3 linked regions of the Homo sapiens genome follow. The protein of the gene in region 3 interacts with the protein of the main gene of each other region in a biochemical or structural test. Each region holds a gene or a part of one and is shown on either strand. Other genes may lie near its edges.

The links. Proteins that work in one complex are often made in the same cells at the same time.
Region 1: the proteins of KLHL22 (region 3) and GLUD1 are reported together in a solved structure, tested with the Homo sapiens proteins (one study listed by BioGRID and IntAct).
Region 2: the proteins of KLHL22 (region 3) and DEPDC5 form a complex in vitro, tested with the Homo sapiens proteins (one study listed by BioGRID).

What each region holds. Positions count from the first base shown.
Region 1 is NC_000010.11:87,049,666-87,056,843, forward strand, and holds the end of GLUD1 (glutamate dehydrogenase 1, mitochondrial isoform a precursor), read right to left. Parts: intron 3,740-7,178; coding exon 3,677-3,739; intron 2,206-3,676; coding exon 2,086-2,205; 3' UTR 537-2,085; downstream 1-536. UniProt on the Homo sapiens protein: Mitochondrial glutamate dehydrogenase that catalyzes the conversion of L-glutamate into alpha-ketoglutarate. Plays a key role in glutamine anaplerosis by producing alpha-ketoglutarate, an important intermediate in the tricarboxylic acid cycle.
Region 2 is NC_000022.11:31,813,019-31,820,196, reverse strand, and holds part of DEPDC5 (GATOR1 complex protein DEPDC5), read right to left. Parts: intron 5,206-7,178; coding exon 4,985-5,205; intron 4,782-4,984; coding exon of another isoform or gene 4,768-4,781; exon of another isoform or gene 4,206-4,767; intron 1,176-4,205; coding exon 972-1,175; intron 1-971. UniProt on the Homo sapiens protein: As a component of the GATOR1 complex functions as an inhibitor of the amino acid-sensing branch of the mTORC1 pathway.
Region 3 is NC_000022.11:20,492,069-20,500,564, forward strand, and holds the start of KLHL22 (kelch-like protein 22), read right to left. Parts: upstream 3,728-8,496; 5' UTR 3,692-3,727; intron 1,497-3,691; exon of another isoform or gene 1,191-1,496; coding exon of another isoform or gene 1,080-1,190; intron 1,074-1,079; exon of another isoform or gene 1-1,073. UniProt on the Homo sapiens protein: Substrate-specific adapter of a BCR (BTB-CUL3-RBX1) E3 ubiquitin ligase complex required for chromosome alignment and localization of PLK1 at kinetochores.

The DNA.
Region 1 (7,178 bases), on a different chromosome or scaffold from region 3:
TGACAGAGCAAGACACTGTCTCAAAAAACAAAAACCAACCCCCCAACCAAAAAAAAATCAGTATTTCCAATATATAGTCAAAGGCCACCACTAAGACTTATCCCACATTCACATGACTTAAATCTGCTGCCCCACCATTATTCTAACATTCTGGAACTGGTTTTTGTATCACTTTCCCCCTTACACATTTTAGTAGCCCACCTAGAGTGCAGATAGACACCACCATGCTGGGGAAGGGCTCACTATGCCCATATACTGGGGGCCTGTTTATCTGACTGACCCTATGCCAGGAGCATGCAGAGGCAGAACTGTGACATACGGACAAAGACCAAATGAAAGCCAGGCTTCACACTGGCAGTTAAGTAACTGGTGGAATCAAGTCTAGAATCCAGTTCTGATTACAGTTAGTATTCTCTCTTCAATAGTTGTTACATTCTGTGGCTAAATTATTCCACATTAAATCCCCTTTAGTGAAAAACGGCACTAAAAGTTACTTCACTATCAGCTTTCAACATTAGAGCCTCTTTCTCAAGAACAGCTGTTCATATTATTTAATAAAATACAAAATAATTCGAGAATAAAGACTATGCTTTCAGGGATCATTTCTATAGTTCGTTACTCGGGAAGTTTCTCTGAACGTGTAAAGCACCGAACAAAAAAAAAAAAAACAATTCAAGAATAAAATCTGGGCAGCTCACAATAAAGTGGAAGGAAATGTTATACAGGTGGTCGCTATAAACATTTCAGAAATCCAATTGCAGTATTATAACTTATGAAAAGAGAAACTACCACATGTAAAAACACAGAAAAGAAACGTAAGTTTTGGAAAACGTAGACTTTTAATAACTGCTTTTATCACCAGGTTAAGCCATGCAGTTACAAAGTAGTTAGAAATTTCTGAAGGGTGTTAGAGTTAAAAAAAAAAAAAAAGCTGACTCTTACACATATATTATCTAGCACTTCATGGGGACACTACTGTTCAAAAGGCCCTGGCCAAATAACTCCCAAATGAAACACTCAACCCAAGGATGTTTTCAGCCCACTGTTAGTGAAGCTGGGTGCAGAATGCAAAGCCTCTAAAAGGAGAGGATACAAAGTCAGGTGAGTAGGGGCCATTGGCAATGCTCAGAGCCAGCCAGACTCCAAACAGGGAGCCCAAGTGGTTTTTTTCTGGGACACTCTACTTGAATTATTGTTTAATTAGTCAACCATAGATCTTCAAAAGAGAACAATTAGTTAACATGATAAAAAGTGACTGCATTCTTTGGACTGTATCATAATTATAGTAAGCAAATTCTGACAGTTTTAATGAAAATAGCCTCCACCATTTTGCAGGTATGAAGATAACTTAATTATCCACAGGGCTTTTAATGTCTGCTGGACAATACATGAATGATAAGCTATAAATGACATTGTTTTATGATATAAAAATACTAGTTTTTTTCATTTATTATTTCTATAGGCATTCACTGTTTGAGTCAAGGTTAGGCTTGTTAAGTGATTAAAGGCAATTTTATTACAGCAGCATGTACTTATTCTATTCTAAAAGAATAATATTCATAAACAGAAACAGGTTTTATATTTGTTTGCAACCTGCAAAATTGAATTATTTTGCTGATATAAAATACTAAGAACTCACTTGAGGACCATGCCACCTTCTGAAAAGGCCACACACCTACTTCTTAAATGTGTTAAAGTTACAGTGTGTCCCAGACTCATCCAGAAAAAATAAGCAAGCAACTGACTGCTCTTGACTGTTCCTCCCCAGCACTAGCACTGATTGTGTTGGGAAAAGCCACAGAGCAAGGCTGCACAGCCAGATAAAGGAGGCTTTTTATTTAAAGGCAAAATACCAAAATGGCTCTCTGGTGTAGGTGATTTCTACTTTCACACTCAGCTTGTACATGATCCGCTAACCTTAATTTCTTTCTCCTTAACGGGCTGACTTGGATTGACTTGTTGAGAATGGTATCCATTATTAATGAGTCAGGAGAGAAAGGGATTTCTGTGGTTACATGTAAACTTGTGATAGGTCTGCAGAAGTTACATGTGAAGAGGATAGTGAGGAAGTCAGCCATGATCCATCTATGTGAAGGTCACACCAGCTTCATTGTACACTTTGAAGACTTTCTCAATGGCATTAACATAGGCAGCTGTTCTCAGGTCCAATCCCAGGTTATACTTCATGGCTGTGCGCATAATTTGCTGAAATGAAAGAGAAAATGCAGTGAAGATGATCCTGACTCAAGTGGCCAGGCCATAAACACACAAGGCCCAGACAGGCCTGGTCCAAGTTACCCTCTCATTGTTTCAAGGCAGGACTTGGGCAGCCAAAGACAAACTACTCTAGCAGCAGAACCTCTAGGCAGGAGGGCCTAATTCTCTGGACTTAACAATGGGGTGGCTGGGTGCGGTGGCTCACGCCTGTAATCCCAGCACTTTGGGAGGCCGACGTAGGCAGATCACTTGAGCTCAGGAGTTCAAGACCGGACTTGCCAACATGGTAAAACCCTGTCTCTACTAAAAATACAAAAATTAGGCAGGGGTGCGGTTGCTCACACCTGTAATCCCAGCACTTTGGGAGGCTGAGGCAGGTGGATCACTTGAGGTCAGGAGTTCGAGACCAGCCTGACCAATATGGTGAAACCCCATCTCTATTAAAAATACAAAAAATTAACCGGGTGTGGGGGTGGGCGCCTGTAATCCCGGCTACTCGGGAGACTGAGGAAGGAGAATTGCTTGAAGCCAGGAGGCGGTGGTTGCAGTGAGCAGAGATTGCACCATTGCACTCCAGCTGGGTGACAGAGCGAAACTCCATCTCAAAAAACTAAACAAAATGAAAACAAAATCAAAAATTAGTTGGGCATGGTGGCTCATGCCTGTAATCCCAGCTACTCGGGAGGCTAAGGGACAAGAATTGCTTGAACTTGGGAGGTGGAGGTTACAGTGAGCTGAAAGTGCGCCACTGCACTCTAGCCTGGGCAACAGGGCAAAACTCCGTCTCAAAAAAAAAAAAAAAAAAAAAAAAAAGGGAGTGATGAAAATGTTCTAGAATTATAAAGTGGTGATGGCTCAAATATATAATAAAGGATGCCGAATTTAATACTTTGAAAGGATGAATTTATACCACATACACCCTATCTCGATCAAAAATTAACAAGAAAAACAACAGCCCTAAGAAGCACCACCTTCTTCACCAATATCTGCTTATGCTATTTCATCATAAATCCAAGCAGATAGAATCTGAACCCAAGAAGAAATTAGGAAAACTGGACTCAAACTGTGGTTGAGGCCTTAAAGTAGGGATCAAGCAGTCAAAATAAGTTTTGCTTATACCAAATTCTATAGTAAGGTAGACTCCCGTAGCTATAACATAGTGGCACATGGAGCTACAATCCAGTTTGGCTAACTACTCCATACTGGGCTAGCTGCCAACATCATTACCTCCTAAATCAGCCTTATTATTTCTTTCCAAAGCCTCAAAAACATATTTGAAGACTCTAAAAAATTGCTTATCATCTGAGACTGAAAAAACATGTGTTTTGCTACACACAAATGAGGACCATTGAACAGATTGATGTTTTCTATCAGCACATACAGTCTGGCGGCTGAGATAGCATGGTTGAGTTGCACTTCATGTGACTAGCTGGAAGGCAAACAGCATCTGCACACATACCCTGGCAGAACGCTCCATTGTGTATGCCAAGCCAGAGTGCACGATGTCTTTCTCAGATGCACCCTATTAGGGAAAAGAACACAAGTTTAACAAAACCACAAAGACCTGCTTTGTGTCCCTGTATAAGATGACAAAGGATTCTCAAGTCAATATACAACCAGACAGAATTTTTTGTCTTTTAGCTAAGATATGTCATTTCTGCACAGTATCAAAGATACAGTATCTTGATACTTACTGAAGCAGTTGCTTGTTGATCACAATTTATTTTTATTATATTTGACAGCAAACAAATACTCATGAAATAAGATTATAGTACAACAATGAAGACAGTTTTTGGACCTAGAGACATGAGGGCATGGAGTGAGATGAGCACCCTCCACTCATGGAGACGCAGATGCACTGAGCAATGTGTTACACTGTTCATGCCACGGTGCGTTCGCCTCAGCTCCCCAGAGAACAGGGACACCACACAGAACACAGAAAGGAATCTGATTAAACCCCATAGCGGCTTTGGGGTAGAATTCTGTGTATCTATTCAGTAGTGCCAGCAACTTTTAAAGCTGTGTAGATCTCAGCAGCGTTTTAATTTTACTGATGAGGAAACTAAGGACCAGAGAAGATGGCCAAGGTTACAGATAGCTATTTTCAGAGCTGGGATATGACTCAGGGCCTCCACCATCAAGTCAGTTCTCTCTTTCCTAATTTGTTTCTTGGAATGCTTTCTAAAAAATTAAGGACAATTAACTCACTACCACTCTTAAGGTGACATACAGAGCTACAAAACACATATGCCCGATAAAAACTTAAAATGGGTCACTGATATAGTTTGGACACTTACTGAGTACATACTCTTCCAGGTACTAGGGGACATAGTAGAGAATAAAATCAAAATTCTGTTCTCACAGACTTTATATTGTAGTGGGAAGAGAGTGTATATACATGGACTTCAAACCACAAGGCTAAGTGGATCATTGAAGTTTTCAATCTAGATAGAGAAGTGGTTTAGGGACGCAGGCCTTCCAATGTTAGGAGAGTGAAGAGTTGAAGAGATACCAGCAAGAGGCAATTGAGAAGAAATGTTTAGTGAGGTAGGGAGAAAACCAGGAGAATGTGGTATCCTGGAAGCTAAGAGAAGAAAATGTTTCAAGGTGGGAGTGTCAGTTGTAACAAGAACTGCTGATAGGTCAAGCAAGATGAGGACTGAAAAATAGCTACTGGATTTGGCAATGCTGGTGTCACTGGCTGTCTTGACAAGAATAGTCTTGGTGGAGTAGGTTCAAGTAAAGAAGAATTGGAGGCTGAGTATATACAACTCTTCCAAGGAGGTTTGCTCTACAGGAAACAAATGGCAATACTGGAAGGGGAAGTGGGATTAAGATTTATACATTTTTTAAAACAGCATTTGGTAAGCTGAGGGGAATGACTCAGAGGGAAACTGCTGATGTAGGAGAGAGGAGCAGACTTGCTAGAGCAGTGTATCTGAGGAAAAACCATCCAATGCCCACAACAAGAACTGGACCTAAGAAATGAAAGCACAAAGAGCTGATCTATTCGAAGAGAGATGACACAGGACTGGGTACAGGTACCAGGAGCTGGGTAGATGCGGAAGCTCCCAGGCTGCATCAGTTTTATCTGTGAACAGATAGCAGGTCATGAGCTGGAATGCAGGGCAGTGAGAAGAGGAGAAAATGTGATGTAATCACTCAGGAGACGGGGAGAATGAATGAAACACGGAAAAGCAGTATGACTGCTGGGCAGCTCTGAGCGCCTACTTGAGGTTAGTGGTCAGGGTGTGAACTGCCAGCAGGGCCTCCTACAGGGTAGAGGCACGGGATTTAATCAGGGATTTAATCAGGGCTGCTGGGATTTAATCAGGGCTTAGGTGTTAACAAAGGAGTATGACAAAGGAAACAAGACTGGGGAGTGACTGTAATGATGGAGCACGGAATTTAAGTTAGATAAGGAGGGAAGTGAGGGCACTGGGGGGATGAGGGACAGTGGAAACATGGCAGGGTCATGATGTGGGTCCTGATAGTGCCAAACAGGGGCAGGGGGAAACTAGAGGGAGAGAGCTTGAGAAAACTTTTATTTTTTTAACTGACAAGGCATATGCTGGGCAGTGGGGTGACCAAAGGGAGGGGTGAACAGCCCTCTGGCAGGGACAGTAGCAGCGCAAGTCCTTCCGATGCACTGCTAGCCACTTGGGATGGATGTTATGTACGAAACAGTGGCACACAGGAGACTTTCAGAGAGAGCCACAGAACTGCAGTGACACTTAAGCAGGGAGGAGATCAGTGTATTCCAGATAAAAGGACCAGAACAAAGACATCACTCTAGGAAATAGGAAGTTTACTGAGGGGAACGGTTAGTACCTAGAATGGGTAAAGCATTTTTTCTTTCTTTACAACAAAATCTTTAACTTTTTCCCATGTTGCAATATAGTCTCAGAACTGTTTTCCATCACTGAATATTTCATAAGGAGATATATTGACGGCCGGGCGCGGTGGCTCACGCCTGTAATCCCAGCACTTTGGGAGGCCGAGGCGGGTGGATCACGAGGTCAGGGGTTTGAGACCAGCCTGACCAACAAGGTGAAACCCCGTCTGTACTAAAAATACAAAAAAATTAGCTGGGTGTGGTGGCGGGCGCCTGTAATCCCAGCTACTCAGGAGGCTAAGGCAGGAGAATTGCTTGAACCTGGGAGGCAGAGGTTGCAGTGAGCCAAAATCGCACCACTGCACTCCAGCCTGGGTGACAGATCGAGACTCTGTCTCAAAAAAAAAAAAAAAAAAAAAAAAACCAAAAAAAAAGAAGATATAATTTACCCATTGTAATATATTCTTAAACTATGAGTGAATATTACCTAAGATGTATTATAAGATATAAGTCAGCCATTTCCCTGCTCCTAAACTTTAAATAAAACCAAATTTAAAAACTGTTTACACCGTTTCTTTTTTTTTTTTTTTTTGAGATGGAGTTTCGCTCTTGTTGCCCAGGCTGGAGTGCAGCGGTGCATTTCTTGGCTCACTCCAACCTCTGCCTCCTGGGTTCAAGCGATTCTCCTGCCTCAGCCTCCCGAGTAGCTGGGACTACAGGTGCGTGCCACCATGCCTGGCTAATTTTTTGTATTTTTAGTAGAGACGGAGTTTCACCATGTTGGCCAGGCTGGTCTTGAACTCCTGAACTCAGGTGAGCCACCTGCCTTGGCCTCCCAAAGTGCTGGGATTATAGGCGTGAGCCACCGCACCTGGCCTACACATAGTTTCAATAACATCATCGTGCATGGAGTGGTTCCTCCTCTTTTGAATTATTTTCTTAGGATAAATTCCCAGAGGGGAGATTGTCATAGCACCAAAGGGCAGGAACACTTTAATAACTTCACATTTTCCAAAGAGCTGCACCAATCTACACCGTCACTAGAATAAAGGTACAACTGTTTCACCACATATATGGAGAACATAAGATCCATTGTTTTTGTTAATACATTAAAAAAAAAAAACTC
Region 2 (7,178 bases), about 11 Mb from region 3:
GAGGTTGCAGTTATCTGAGATCACGCCACTGTACTCCAGCCTACGTAACAGAGTGAGACACTGTCTCACACACACACACACACAAAATCCTGGAGTTTAATGCATTTGTTCCTTTCCAGCTCAATAAGAGCCCATTAAGCTAAAGTTTAATTTTAGCCACAGCTTGAGACAATCTTACTGTCATCTTCTTGAGAACAGAATATAGATAAAAAAGAATGGACTAGGAAAAAGTGAATTCAGGGGAAAATTTTTTTTCAGTTGTCAGAGAGACCTAACAGAAAACAAAACAACATAACTCCTTGTAACCAAGACAGGATATCAATATCCAAGAGATCTAAGAGAAGAAGGAATGAACAAGAATGAGGGACATCTGACTTAGGAAAGAAAGCAGGTGGCAATGCATAGTTCCTCTCAAATAGAAACAAAGGGCCGGATGCGGTGGCTCACATCTATAATCCCAGCACTCTGGGAGGTTAAGGTGGGCAGATTGCTTGTGTCCAGGAGTTCAAGACCAGCCTAGGCAACATGGTGAAACCCTGTCTCTACTAAAAATACAAAAAACTAGCCAGGCCTGGTGGCACGTACCTACAGTCCCAGCTACTTGGGAGGCTGAGGTGGGAGAATCACCTGAGCCCTGAAGGTTGAGGCTGCAGTGAGCTGAGACTGCACCACTGCACTCCAGCCTAGGCAACTAGAGTGAGACCCTGTCTCAAAAGAAAAAAAAAAAAAAAAGGGCAGAAACAAACAAAAAAGCCCTCAGGTTTATACAGCTAATTAGTTACAAAGCCTATTCCCAAGTGCATCTTCAAGGATCTTTACAAGAACCCCTGGGATGGCCAAAGTGGGCATGGTTATCCCATCTTACAGGTGGAGCAACAGAGGCACCTGACCAAGGACACATGGGTGACCGACACTGAGGACCAGGGCTAGGAGCTCCTAGTCCAAGGCTCTCTCTTAAGCAACCAACTTACCCACAGGAAAAGTGTGCATCCAGCGCCTTCTGTTGGACGTAAGCTTCATGGGCATCCGAGAGGGAGCGAAGGGGTTAATCAGTGCTCTCTGGGGCGTGTATCCACCAGGTCGAACATGCAGCATGGATTCTGCACTGCCAACGTGAAACCTCCCTGGTGCACTGGAGTCTCGCTGTGGTGGCTCCATCATGTTCTCCAGGACATCTGCCAGTTATCATGGAGTTGAGTCACAAAGAAAAACCACAGAACCACAGTGAAACCAGAGCTAGGTAGAATGATAAACCAAGGCTGACAAGAATCTTGGGCATTATAAATGTCAGGGAGTGAGAGAAATGAGCAAAACTGTCAAACTATAAAGAAATGAAATATGTTTGCATTTGTTTGCTTTTAAATACTTGGGAGAAGGGAGTTTTGGTTCTAAATTACTGGCAAAATGAAGTCACAACCAAATCTGATGGGAAGGACACTGCCTGAAGATCCTGAACTTTGAGCTGGAAGCAATGACTGAATGATGGGACTTGAGTTGTCTCCCTTGGGAAAGGAACGAGTATATTCTCTAAGAGGGAGGAACAATAAAAATAGCTATGTGGTCACCAGAAGGGCAGATCTTGGCAGAGCTAGTCAATGTCTTCACTATAAACCCATTTGATTTTCCTACTGGACACAAGACTATAGTTCCCAGACCCTTTGCAATAAAGCCAAATGACTTAGTTCTGGCCAGGTAGAAATTATATGCTTCAAATCCAGGCCTGGACCACAATGATCTCCACAAATGATCTGCATTCTTTTTCCCTTTGTGGCAACCCAGGAGACCAATGTTGATAATCATGGCATCCCAGGATGGAAGGAACCTGAGTTCCTGAATGGACTGAGTGGATCAGTAGCCCCTCCACTGACTTAGTGGGCTGGGACATGAGTAAGCAATAAAATGTTATTATGCTAAAAAAATTACTGAGAAAAAAATAACGAAGAAATGGATGCCTCCAGCCTTGACCAGGCAAGGAGATGGTATGATATTTAGACACCACCTGTCTGGCGCAATGGTAGACAGGTCCCATTATGGAGACAGAGACAGCATGCCTGAGTGGATCAAAGAACTGAAATCCACAACCAACTCTTCTTGTGTGTATTCCATGTTCATTAAGCAACCACCCAGATGAAAAAGTGGGTCCAGCAGATGCAAACTCCAAGGAATTTGTCTTGGCCATCATTATCTACCCAATGCCTAGCACAGAACCTCATACACTGTAATACTGTATTTCATTCCTCAAGTTGCTTTGCAGGAAAGAAGAGAATGTTCAGATTTCTGTGAAAGTTTTACTGTTCATTGTAAATTAATGAATTGATGCTCTAACTTACAAAATAAAAAAGAACATAGTCTAGTTAGTTATTAAGGAAATAAAAGAGAAAAACCTAGTAAAAAAAAAAAGATGAGTACAGGCCAGGTACAGTAGCTTATTCCTGTAATCCCAGCACTTTGGGAGACCAAGGTGGAAGGATCACTTGAGCCCAGGAGTTCGAGACCAGCCTGGGCAACAGATTGAGACCGTCCCTACAAAAACTTTAAAAACTAGCCGGGTGTGGTGGTGCACACCTGTAGTCCCAGCTATTTGGGAGGCTGAAGTGGGAGGATCACGTGAGCCCAGGAGGTTGAGGCTGTAGTGAGCCAATATTGTACCACTGCACTACAGCCTGGGCAACAGAGTGAGAACCTGTCTCAAAACAAACAAATAAAAGAAACCACCCATGAAACTGCTCAGGCCATCAAGGGTATGCATATATAAAAAGCCACCAAGTATATGAAAGATGTCACTTTGGCCAGGCAAGGTGGCTCACGCCCGTAATCCCAGCACTTTGGGAGGCTGAGGTGGGCAGATCACCTGAGGTCAGGAGTTCGAGACCAGCCTGACCAACATGGTGAAACCCCATCTCTACTAAAAATACAAAAATTAGCCAGGCATGGTGGCAGGCACCTGTGATCACAGCTACTCGGGAGGCTGAGGCAAGAGAATTGCTTGAACCCGGGAGGCAGAGGTTGCAGTGAGCCAAGATCACGCCATTGCACTCCAGCCTGGGGGACAAGAGTGAAACTCCATCACAAAAAAAAAAGAAAGAAAGAAAGAAAGAAATATGTCACTTTACAGAAACAATGTGTACCATTTCCACATTACAATGATGGAGATAGTAGGTGGTCCCAGGCCACACAGCACGGCTGCACACGGGGTCAGTGGCCAAAAAAGAGTACTGAATTATTGCTACATATGCTTAAAAATGCACAGTCATGCCGAACTTAAGGGTTCAGGTGCAGATCCTCTGGTCATTGAGCATGTCCAGGTGAACAAAGCACCCAAGATGTGCTGCCTGATGTAAAGAGCTCATGGTCAGATTAACCCATACATGAGCTCCCCCTGCGAAACCAAGATGATCCTCATGGAAAAGGAATAAATTATTCCTAAACCAGAAGAGGACATTGCACAGAAGAAAAAGATATCCCAAGGCCAGGCATGGTGGCTCACGCCTGTAATCCCAGCACTTTGGGAGGCCGAGGTGGGTGGATCATTGGAGGCCAGGAGTTTGAGACCAGCCTGGCCAACACGGCAAAACCCCATCTCTACTAAAAAAACAAAAATTAGCTGGTGTGGTGGTGTGTGCCTGTAATCCCAGCTACTTGGGAGGCTAAGGCAAGAGAATCACTTGAACCCAGGAGGCAGAGGTTGCAGTGAGCTGAGATCATGCCACTGTACCCTAGCCCGGGCAACAGAGCAAGACTCTGTCTCAGAAAAAAAGAAAAGAAAAAAAAAGAAAAGAAAGAAACTGAAGAAACAAAAACTGATAGTATGGGAATAAATTCGGTACAAAATCAATGCAAATAAAAGTTAAAAAAAAACAGGTAAGTGAAAAAAAAAGTTTTTTGTTTTTTTTTTTTTGAGGTGGAGTCTCCCTCTGTCACCCAGGCTGGAGTGCAGTGGTGGAATCTCGGCTCACTGCAACTACGCCTGCCAGGTTCAAGTGATTCTCCTGCCTCAGCCTCCTGAGTAGCTGGGATTACAGGCACCCGCCACCACACCTAGCTAATTTTTGTATTTTGAGTAGAGACGGCGTTTCACCATGTTGACCAGGCTGGTCTCAAACTTCTGGCCTCAAGTGATCCACCCGCCTTGGCCTCCCAAAGTGCTGGAATTACAGGTGTGAGCCACTGCGCCCGACCGGTAAATGAGAAACTAAAATGCAACATTAAGACAGAGGTTGTTTTATATATGGCACAAATGGAAATCATAAGGAAATAAACCCTTTTGACCCTAGGCCTAAGAAAAGCTTTCCATTAACATATGGAAAGGCATACAGTTAAATGATGGATGAAGAAAGGCTAAACAAAAAATAGTATAATAGAGGCAGGGTGCGGTAACATTGGTTCATGCCTGTAATCTCAGCACTTTTGGAGGCCAATGGGTGGATCCCTCGAGTCCAGGAGTTCAAGACCAGCCTGGGAATGGTAAAACCCCACCTCTACAAAAAAAAATATGATAATCAGCTGGGTGTGGTGGCATGCTATAGTCCCAGTTACTTGGGAGGCAGAAGTGGGAGGATCAATTGAGTCCAGGAGTTCAAGGCCGCACTGAGGTGAGCTGTGATTGCATCACTGCACTTCCCCACCTCTACAAAAAAAAATATGATAATCAGCTGGGTGTGGTGGCATGCTATAGTCCCAGTTACTTGGGAGGCAGAGGTGGGAGGATCGATTGAGTCCAGGAGTTCAAGGCCGCACTGAGGTGAGCTGTGATTGCATCACTGCACTTTATCCTAGGTGCTCTGTCACCAAAAAAAAAAAAAAAAAAAAAAGAAGTATAATATATACATAGCTAACAGCTAAAGTGATTTGTACCTACTGCACTGGCAAAGAAATCATTAAGATGTGGGATTTACACCCCACCTCTGACCAATCCTCCCACCTCCAGTCACCCACTATATTAAGAAAGATGTCCCTGGCTCTGTCTGTGCTTCAGCACTCTTACCTCGAGTGCTGGTGTATCCCAAGGAGCTGCTGACTTCATACTGGTGCAGGTGGGGGTGTGGGATCATCAGGATGTTGGCACTCTTGCCTAGGGAGCTGTCGTCAGAAGCCTGGCTCCTCACTTCCTCAGTGGGCAGTGTGCGGCTTGGTAGGGAAGGGCTGGATGAAACATCACAGGAGCTGGCACTCTTTCGACTGTGACTCTCTCGCTCTCGCACAGATCTGCCAGGCAAGAGACAAAAAGTTACCATCAAGCGAGGGATGCTGTCCTACCTTGAGTTAAAACTAAAACCCATCACCAGCCCAAGCCACATGGAACCCAATAACAAAAATCCCCAGTGTGATCTACAAGTGGGAAACCTGTATGCGGTACTTCACCCTTAACAGCTTGAGATGTTATATAAGAGAGGGGGGAAATGACAGACATTATGCAGCCAAAGTCCTAGGATCATAGTTGTAAAGAAAGGACTGCTCCAGGCTGACCCCACCTAATCCCACTGATTAATCTCTCATCACTAAAAACAGAATGAGAAGAGAGGTATGATGTGATGTGGGAGAAAGAACATAGTGCCCAAGAAGTCTACTTGCCCTCAAATTTGAATCTAAATCTAATCAAGCTTCCAGAGATAATTGCCAGTTTACAGGGAATCTGCAGAATAGAGGAAAACTGAAACACTACAAGGCAACAATCAGCCAAATGTAGAAAGCAAGACATTCTACTGTCACACACACACACAAAAGGCATTATAACCAAATGCAAAAAGTGGATCTTGTTTAGGTCCCATTTCAAACTAACTGCAAAAGCACATTTTTGAGGCAATTCAAAAAACTGACTATGCACTGGCTATTAGAGGGCATTTAGGGATTAGTGTTAATTTTGTTACCAATGATAATGGTACCGTGATGGGTTTTCTTTTAGTTCTTATTTGTTGAAACATATACTAATCAGCTTTGTGCCAGGCTGGGTGACACTAAATAAATAAATAACATGTAAAAAAAGAAAGAAACTTACGCTGAAGTATGTATTATTGAAAAAAAATAGAGGCTGCCTGGGGTTTGTTTTGTTTGTTTGTTTTTGTGAGACGGAGTCTCACTCTGTCACCCAGACTGGAGTGCAGTGGCATGATCTCAGCTCACTGCAGCCTCCACATCCTGGGTTCAAGTGATTTTCCTGCCTCAGCCTCCCAAGTAGCTGAGATTACAGACGCCCACCACCACGCCTGGGTACTTTTTTCGTATTTTTAGTAGAGACGGGGTTTCACCACGTTGGTCAGCCTGGTCTCAAACTCCTGAACTCAAGTGATCCACCTGCCTTGGCCTCCCAAAGTGCTGGGATTACAGGTGTGAGCCACTGTGCCCGGCCAATCCTGGGATTTGTTTTTAAAATATTCCATCCAAAATTTAAACGTGGGAGAGGTCATGAAACAAGGCTGACAACATGGTGATAACTGTTCATGATACTATTCTCTATTTGAGCACGTCTGAACATTTCCTAATAAAAGTTTATATATGCATATATATATATATATATATAGCCTTATTAAAACATAAAATTCCCTAAGGGGAAAACCTCTAAAAGCAACAGGAAGAAGGATCAAAAAGAAAGAAGCCCTATAGAGAAGCAAAAGCTCAGAACGAAAAAGCAAGCCCACCAACGGGGCTGCCCTTCTGGCATCAGAGCTGCTCCCTTTCCTCCTGGAAGGATTTTTTTAGTAAGAGCTTAAACGGAGCCTGAAAACAGATTCCAAGTGCTGACTACATGTTTGTTCTTTCCACAGTAAATATTTAAACACCAGTATACGCTTAGCCATGTGTGAAGGTAGCACCAATTAAGACACAATTTGTGCCTTCAGAGACCACACAACCTGGGTACCACCAGGTCTTGTCATCTTTAATTAGAAAAAGAAAATCAATCTTGAACTATGAGAGCATTTTTAAAGACTACAAAGAAAAGCCCCTAAGTAGCTCTTACTGAGCCCCTAAGCAGCATCCACACATAGGAGAGAGGCTGCTGACAGCACTTAATTCTGAGCTCTAAGCCTTCTCAGGTAGGACTGGATGAGAGAAAAGGGCAGAAAACAATCATGTGGTCACTCTAAGTTCATTTGCCACAAAATTAAGAGACATAATATTCTTCCACTCAGTTGCGCTTAAAGCTACAGAGTTAAGAAATCTGGCGGGGGCAGTGGCTCACA
Region 3 (8,496 bases):
ACCCTGCTCGAGCCCATCCTTCTTTCCCAGTGGTTCACATTCCCAGTTTCACCTACAGCTCAGTGCCTAATCTAGCTAGTAGCCCTCCAACTTGTCTAATTTTACTATCAAAGCTACCATTTCCATCTTGGAAACCTCACTGTTTTAATATTTTTCCTTTCTAACCCATGTGCCCTATGAACCTACTAGTTCTGATTCCTTCACCTCTCCTCCATCTCAGACAGCCACCCTCCACTCCTCCAGGGCCACCACTCTGGGTCAGACCACAGCAGTGATGCCCCTACCAGTTTCCCTACCTCTTGTCTCATCCTCCCCAGGCTGCTCTCCTTCAAGCCTTACCTACTCAGCCCCATCAGCAGTCCTTAGTCCAAAAGGGATACCTGTCATCCCCTGAACACCTTTAGTCACCCATCTAGGCCATTCTGTCTCTCATAGTCCCATATTGGTCAAGGTCTAGCTCGATTACTTCTCCCTCTATCATTGTACAGAGAACATGACAAATATGCCCCACCATTCAAACCTGCCCTTTTTTTTTTTTTTAGACGGAGTCTCGCTCTGTCACCCAGGCTAGAGTGCAGTGGTGTGATCTTGGCTCACTGCAACCTCTGCCTCTCAGGTTCAAGTGATTCTCCTGCCTCAGCCTCCCCAGTAGCTGGGATTACAGGCGTGCACCACCACACCCAGCTAATTTTCTTGCATTTTTAGCAGAAATGGGGTTTCACCATGTTGGTCAGGCTGGTCTCGCATTCCTGACCTCAGGTGATCCATCTGCCTTGACCTCCCAAAGTGCTGGGATTACAGGCATGAGCCACCGCGCCCGGCCCAAACCTGCCTATTTACCCACGACAAGGAGATTCCGGCTTCTTGAGGGGTGAGGTTTTATCTCACAAACATCTCAAAAGCCCCCATGGCTGGCTGTACCACTTGCTAATGACAGACTCTGGGCACTTGTCTCATATACCCACGCCTCAGCTTTCTCATCACCACCATGACCACCGCAGAGTCAAGAGGGCCTCCTTCTCTGAGGGTGACCTCCACAACTACCCCAATAGACATCAAGCCCCCAGGTGGATCCTCACCTTCCGTGAGCATAGTAGTGCCTCTGCTCTCTTGGGAAGGGATAAATGGCAGCTACTCCCTAAACCCATACTGCAAAAACAAGTACGGTAAAACAGAAAGACATCTTCCATGGGCAGGCAAAGCACATTTACCAAGTCCAATTTAAGAAACTTAGCTAGGGGCTAAGGGGGATATGCTGAAAAATGAATCAATTCTCTGCTGGGAAGGAGCACAGCACAGGGTGCAACATTTAAAACATTTAAAACCACATCTATACGGTTTTAAATCACCAAAACGTCCACCCTCAGGAGAACAGATGTCATGGCACAGTGATCTGACAGAACATTAGGCAACAGTCAAAATGCGCAAAGTGGCCGGGCGCAGTGGCTCACGCCTGTAATCCCAACACTTCGGGAGGCTGAGGCGGATGAATCACGAGGTCAGGAGTTCAAGACCAGCCTGGCCAACATAGTGAAACCCCATCTCTACTAAAAATACAAAAAAATTAGCCGGGCATGGTGGTAGGTGCCTATAATCCCAGCTACTTGGGAGGCTGAGGCAGGAGAATCACGCCACTGCATTCCAGCCTGCATGACAGTGCGAGACTCCGTCTCAAAAACAAAAAAACAAACAAAAAAACAATGTGCAAAGTAGGCTGGGCACAGTGGCTCATGCCTGTAATCCCAGCACTTTGGGAGGCCAACGTGGGAGGATCACCTGAGGTCAGGAGTTCAAGACCAGCCTGGCCAACATGAGGAAGCCCCATCTCTACTAAAAATACAAAAATTAGTGGGGCGTGGTGGCGCATGCCTGTTATCCCAGCTACTGGGAAGGCTGAGGAAGGGGGAAGCTGAGGCAGGAGAATCGATTGAACCCAGGAGGTGGAGGTTGCAGTGAGCCAAGATTGTGCCATTGCACTCCAGCCTGGGCGACAGAGCCAGACTTTGCCCCCCCCCCAAAAAAAAAAGTGCAAAGTAGGCTGGGCATGGTGGCTCATGCCTGTAATCCCAGTGCCTTGGGAGGTCCAGGTAGGTGGAGTTCAAGACCACCTTGGGCAATATAGCGCGACCCTTTCTCTACAAAAAATTTAAAAATTAACTAGGCATGGTGGTGTACACCTGTAGTCCTGGCTATCTGGGGTGAGACAGCTTGGGGTTCACTGCAGTCTCAAGCTCCCAGGTTCAAGTGATCCTCCCACCTCAGCTTCCTCAGAAGCTGGAACAACAGGAGCTCACCACTGCGCCCGGCTAATTTTTCAAATTTTCTTTGTAGAGAAGAGGTTTCACTATATGGTGTAGGCTAGAGTGCAGTGGTAGGGTCTTGGCTCACTGCAGCCTTCATCTCCTGGGTTCAAGCGATTCTCCTACCTCAGCCTCCCGAGTAGCTGGGATTACAAGCACGTGTCACCACACCCAGCTAATTTTTGTATTTTTAGTAGAGACGGGGTTTCACCATGTTGGCCAGGCTAGTCTCTCCTGACCTCAGGTGATCTGCCAGCCTTGGCCTCCCAAAGTGCTGGGATTACAGGCATGAGCCACCGCGCCCGCCCCCAGTCTCATATCCCCAATTTTAGTCATCACAAGCCAAGTTCCCCGTTTTGTACTGTTCGAAGTTTCAGTGGGGAGAAGAAAGGAAGCTTAATGTGCCACATAGCTACAAACTGAAGGATACAAGATGAATTTTTATGAAGTGATGGATGGCAGAGTCAAAATCATTTCAGAGGAACTTTCAGTTCGGTACGATTTTACTGAGTAGATACCCTCAGCCTTCTGTAGGGCCCCCGAACGAGCAGTATCCCCTCAAAGAAACTCAATCCTTGGCAGCATGAAGCAAGGTCGGCCACAAAGGCAAAGGGGGCGGCTGCGGTAGAGGAGAGGGAGTGGGTGCTGATTCCCAGCGGGGCAGCCTTCCAAAGGGTGCGCTCTGGAAGAATCTCCCAGGGAGCCGTCTTGGAGGCACTCGGCCCCGCGGAGGGCCGGAGCGAGGGCGCCCAGTGAGGAGCCCAGGCGGAAGGTGGCGGTGCCCCGCTGCCCGCCCCAGATCCACTCGGCTCGGCCCGCACCGGATCTAAAATGGTCAGAACTGGCAGCCGACGCTTCGCGCTCTGGTGATTTTGCACTGACAGCGCGATCTCCGGCTCCTCTCAGGAAACCGGGAGAGCTGGCAAGGCTGGGCTCCTACGGCTGCAGTCCCCGGGCCCGATCGAGGGAACTGAGGCTCGTCAGGCCGGCCCCAAATCGCCCGCCTGTTGCAAGGCCGCCCGCTCCAGCGCGGAGGGTCGCGGCCAGGAAGGCCGCATTCGGACCTGCCGCAGGCAACAGGGCCCGCCCGGGTGCCAGGAGGCCGGCGCGCCAGCAGCCGCGCTGAGGAGGCCTCGCACCCTGGCCCCTGGCCGAGCGCCAGATCCCGGCCCCTACGCGCCCGCGCCCGGGGATCCCGCCGGCCGCGTCCCCGCCACGTCAGGCCGCGGGCTCTCCTCAGGTCGCCGCCCCCGAGCCTCCGGCCCGCGCCCGCCCCCGCGCCCCTCGGACTCCGCGCCGCTAGCTTGTCCCCGGCCCAGCGATGCCTGCTTGCCGCCCGACCCCCGCGTTCGCTGCCGCCCGGCCCGTTCGGCTCACGCCTCGCAGCTGACCTGGTGCCGCCGCCAGCCGAGGCCGCACTCGCAGCTGGAGGGAGGCGGGAGGCGGGAGGCGGGAGGCGCGAGGCGGGAGGCTGGGCGAGAGGAGCCGGCGGGGCGGGGGCCTGGGCCGTCACGTGGGTGCGCCGCGCAGGCGCCGGGCGGGCCAGACGTAGGCCCGGGGGTTCCCGGCCTGGCCGGGTAGCAGCGCGGGGGCGGCCCTGGGGCGGGGAGACAGGGGGCGGCTCCACTCCGGCGCTCTGCGGAGGACAGCAGCGATCGCCAAGGCTCAGTGAGTCCCCGCACTAGCGCGGCACCTGGCACTTGGCGGGGCCGAACCAACGAATGAGCGAATTTGCCGAGAGTCGCCCCGTCTGAATCCATTGACTCTTTCCTTGCCTCGGTCCTACCCTCATTCCTCGACTCACTTCCTCCTGCCCTTCCTCACTATCTCCCTCCCCGCTCATATCCTCCCTCTCCTTTCCTCATTCCCTTCTTCACTCTCTTCTCTCCTCTCTTACTCCCCCCCTCTCATTCCCTCCCTCCTTCACTCTCTCATTCCTTCCCTTCCTATCTTACCCACCATTCCCTTCCTCCCTCACTCATTCACTCCCTCCCTGTCTCCCCCTCTCATCCCCTCCCTCTCTCATTCCCTTTCCCTCCCTCCTTAACTCTCGTTCTCTCCTCCCTCTCTCATTCCTTCCCTCCCTGTCTCATTTCCCCCCTTCTTTCCCTCCCTCCCTCTCCTCTTCTCCCATTGCCTCCCTCCCTCTTTGATTCCCTTCTTTCCTCCTCTCCTCCACTTGTTCCCTTCGTCACGCGCTCATTCCCTCCCTCCCGCGGCCTGCTCCTTCCCCGCTCCCTCCGCGGTCGGTGCCGCTGACCGTAGCGCGCCCCCTGCGGGATATCGGGGAGAATCGCTTAACACCGCCAGAGTGAACAGGTGCTAGTTTGTGTGCCCGTTCCTTTACTGAGATTTTGCAGTAAATCTAATTCCCAGTCTTAAAGCCTGGTCCCAGAGGTCCGTGCGCGGGTCTTGGCATTCATTGTTCTCCACCTCACCTTCGAGCAGGTCCCATCCTCCGAGGCGTATCCGTAATGGCTGCGCCCAGAGCTTGGAGCCACAGAGCCTCCTGATGGGATAAGGTTGGAGTGTCCCACACTGTGGTTTTGAGAGGGACTGTGAAGGGTGGAGAGAGTGGTAGGGGGAGGATGTGGCTGGAGATGGCTCATGGTTAAAAAGAAAGGTGGGGCCGGGCTTGGTGGCTGGCGCCTGTAATCCCAACACTTTGGGAGGCCGAGACGGGCGGATCACGAGGTCAGGAGATGGAAACCATCCTGGCCAACATGGTGAAACCCCATCTCTACCAAAACACACACAAAAAAACTAGCCGGTCGTGGTGGCGCGCACCTGTAGTCCCAGCTACTCGGGAGCCTGAGGCAGGAGAATCGCTTGAACCCGGGAGGCAGAGGTTGCAGTGAGCCGAGATCACGCGCCACTGCACTCCAGCCTGGTGACAGAGCGAGACTCCGTCTCAAAAAAAAAAAAAAAAAAAAAAAAAAAAATTGGTGGAAGGGGAATGTAAAAGGAGGAAAATACACGGAAGAGAATTGCTGTCCTGGCTGAGTCCAGAGAGATAACTGAGGGTCCCAGACAAGGATCAAGAGAACGGGATTGGCCTCCAGAGGCAGAGGTTCCAAATGGGAGTGGGCTTCCTCCTAGAAAGACTTTCTGGAGGAGACCCCCCTACTGTGTAACAGAGGAGGACTTTGGGATTAAGAAAAGCATTCCAGGAAGCCGACAGTGTCAGCAAACGTGGAGGTGAGATCCTTCAAAGTGAGTGGTGTGGAGGTTTCCAGAATTTTCTGAGCCTGAAGGGAAGGTTGGAGAGCAGACCCTGCCCTTTGGAGGCTTGACTTAGCCCTGAGGGCACCCTGTAGCCAGGGTGGGCAGATGCCAATATGGTAGAGACGAAGACTGAGTAGGGAGCCAGCCACAGTGCTGTGGTCTCAGGCAGGGAGTGAAGACCAGAGTGGAGCAGGCTAGAAACCTGGGAAGGAAGCAGGTTCCCCAGTATAAGCCCAGTGATGTGTGAAGAATGAGCCCAGGAGATGGGTGGGGAAGTAGGCCCACCCTGCCTACAGGGGAGCCAGAGCAAGAGCAGGTCTGGGGGAAGATGAGGCCCCCCTTGGCTCCAGGTAGGGGAAGACTGACCTCCAAGGCCCAATGGGACCAGGTGTACGGGTGGACCCAGAGAGGAGAGGAAAAGGAATCCTGGGGCAGCAACAAGAAGGCCACTGTGGTCTGAATGTCGGTACCCCCAAAATTCATATGTTGGAACTGAATCCTCAGTGCGATACTATTATAAAGTAGGGCCTTTGGGAGGGGTTTAGGTCATGAGGGTGAAGTCCTCACCATGGGATCAGTGTATAAAAGAGGTTCGAAGGAGCTCATCCCCCACTTTTGCCAGGTGAGGACACTGTAATAAGCACCATCTTCAAGGCAGAGAATCGGCTGGGCGCAGTGGCTCACGCCTGTAATCCCAGCACTTTGGGAAGCCGAGGTGGGAGGATCATGAGGTCAGGAGATCAAGACCATCCTGGCTAACATGGTGAAACCCCATCTCTACTAAAAATACAAAAAATTAGCCAGGCATGGTGGTGGGCGCCTGTAGTCCCAGCTACTTGGGAGGCTGAGGCAGGAGAATGGCGTGAACCCGGGAGGCAGAGCTTGCAGTGAGCTGAGATCGCGCCACTGCACTCCAGCCTGGGTGACAGAGCAAGACTCCGTCTCAAAAAAAAAAAGCAGAGAACGGACCCCTCACTAGACACTGGGGCTTTTTTCTGAAGGCTACTGTGTCATATAAAATTTATATTAAATAAATTGATATGCTTTTCTCTTGTTAATCTGTCCTTTGTTAGAGGGGTGTCAACCAGGAACCTTGTGATGCGTGAGGAAAAAATATTACCTTTTCCCCCTACTCTTTCTGGCACCCAACAAACAAGTGGGGTGGCAAAGACACCCCACTTGGGACAACTGGCAAAAGGTAAGCATTCTTACCAAGGTTAACTGTCCCATATCACTGCCTGTAGTACTCAGCTGAGAGTGGAAGGTAAAAACTTCTTGTCCCTTCCTTTCCAAATTCAAATTAGCAGAAGAAAACATTGTGTCTGGATTGTGACTCTTGCTTAAATTTGGTTGAGGGGTAACTGTTTGTTATTGATCCTTTCCTCCCAGGCACAGCTACCTCTTTCCTGTTTGTTTTATTTGTGTCCTGAGAGCTTGGCTTTATGACCAGTGAGAATATTCTCCCTGATCTCTGAATAGCCAGTGGGTGCAAGTGACAGCTTGCTTTAGGACAGCTTGCGTTAGGGTTGCAAGTAACAGCTTGCATTATTACAAACTCCTCTGTCCCGGTCAGAAAAAGAGAAAGTTTGGTTTTTGTTTGTTTGTTTGTTTTTTGTTTTGTTTTAATAGTCTTGCTCTTTCGCCCAGGCTGGAGTGCAGTGGCATGGTGGCATGATCTTGGCTCACTGCAACTGCTGCATCCTGGGCTCAACTGATTCTTCTGCCTCAGCCTCCTGAGTAGCTGGGACTACAGGCACACACTACCACGTCCAGGTAATTTTTTTTGTATTTTTAGTAAAGAGGGGGATTCATCATGTTGCGCAGGGTGATTTTTTTTTTTTTTTTTTAATTCTTTTCTGAGACGGAGTCTTGCTCTGTCACCCAGGCTGGAGTGCAATGGCGGGATCTCGGCTCAGCCTCCTGAGTAGCTGGGATTACAGGCACCTGCCACTACGCCAGCTAATTTCTGTATTTTTAGTAGAGACAGGGTTTCACCATGTTAGTCAGGCTGGTCTCGAACTCCTGACCTCGGGTGATCTGCCCACCTCGGCCTCCCAAAGTGCTGGGATTACAGGCATGAGCCACCGTGGCTGGCCTCTTTTATTTTTAAGATACAGGGTCTCACCCAAGCTGGTCAGGAACTCCTGGCCTCAGTCCACCTGTCTCAGCCTCCCAAAGTGCTAGGATTACAGGCATGAGGGACCACGCCCGGCCAAAGAGAAGGTTCTGAACCTTCTCTTTTTCTGACCATGACAGAGGAGTTTGTAAGTGGGCCAAGTCTATAAGGGGTTTTTGTTGTCTCAGTATTCATTGGTGTGATAGATGAGCCAGTCCATGACTGGAGACGTGACAGTGTTCTGTACAAGATGACATCCTTAGTCACCTGTGTCAACAAAGGTGCCTTCTGGCTAGGCACGGTGGCTCACGCCTATAATCCTAGCACTTTAGGAGGCTGAGCCAGGCAAATCACGAGGTCAGGAGTTAGAGACCAGCCTGACCAACATGGTGAAACCCTGTCTCTACTAAAAATACAAAAAAATTAGCCAGGTGTGGTGGCGCATGCCTGTAATCCTAGCTATTCGGGAGGCTGAGGCAGGAGAATGGGTTGAATCTAGGAGGCAGAGGTTGCAGTGAGCCAAGATCGCGCCACTGTACTCTAGCCTGGGTGACAGAGCGAGACTCCGTCTCAAAAAAAAAAAAAAAACCCAAAGGTGCCTTCTTTCTTTTGACTGTCTTTGCAAGGGGTCTGGATTTGAGAGTGCTGAATCTTTGTGCACCCTCTTTGGAGTGTGTCTTTCTCTCTCTCTCTCTCTCTTTTTTAAGAGACAGAGTCTCACCCAGACTGATCAGGAACTCCTGGCCTCAGGTGGTCCTCCCACCTTGACTTCCCAGAGTGCTGAGATTACAGGCATGAGCCATTGTGCCCAGCCTTGAGGATGTCTCTTTTGTCCATGGTTAAGTCATAAAATGC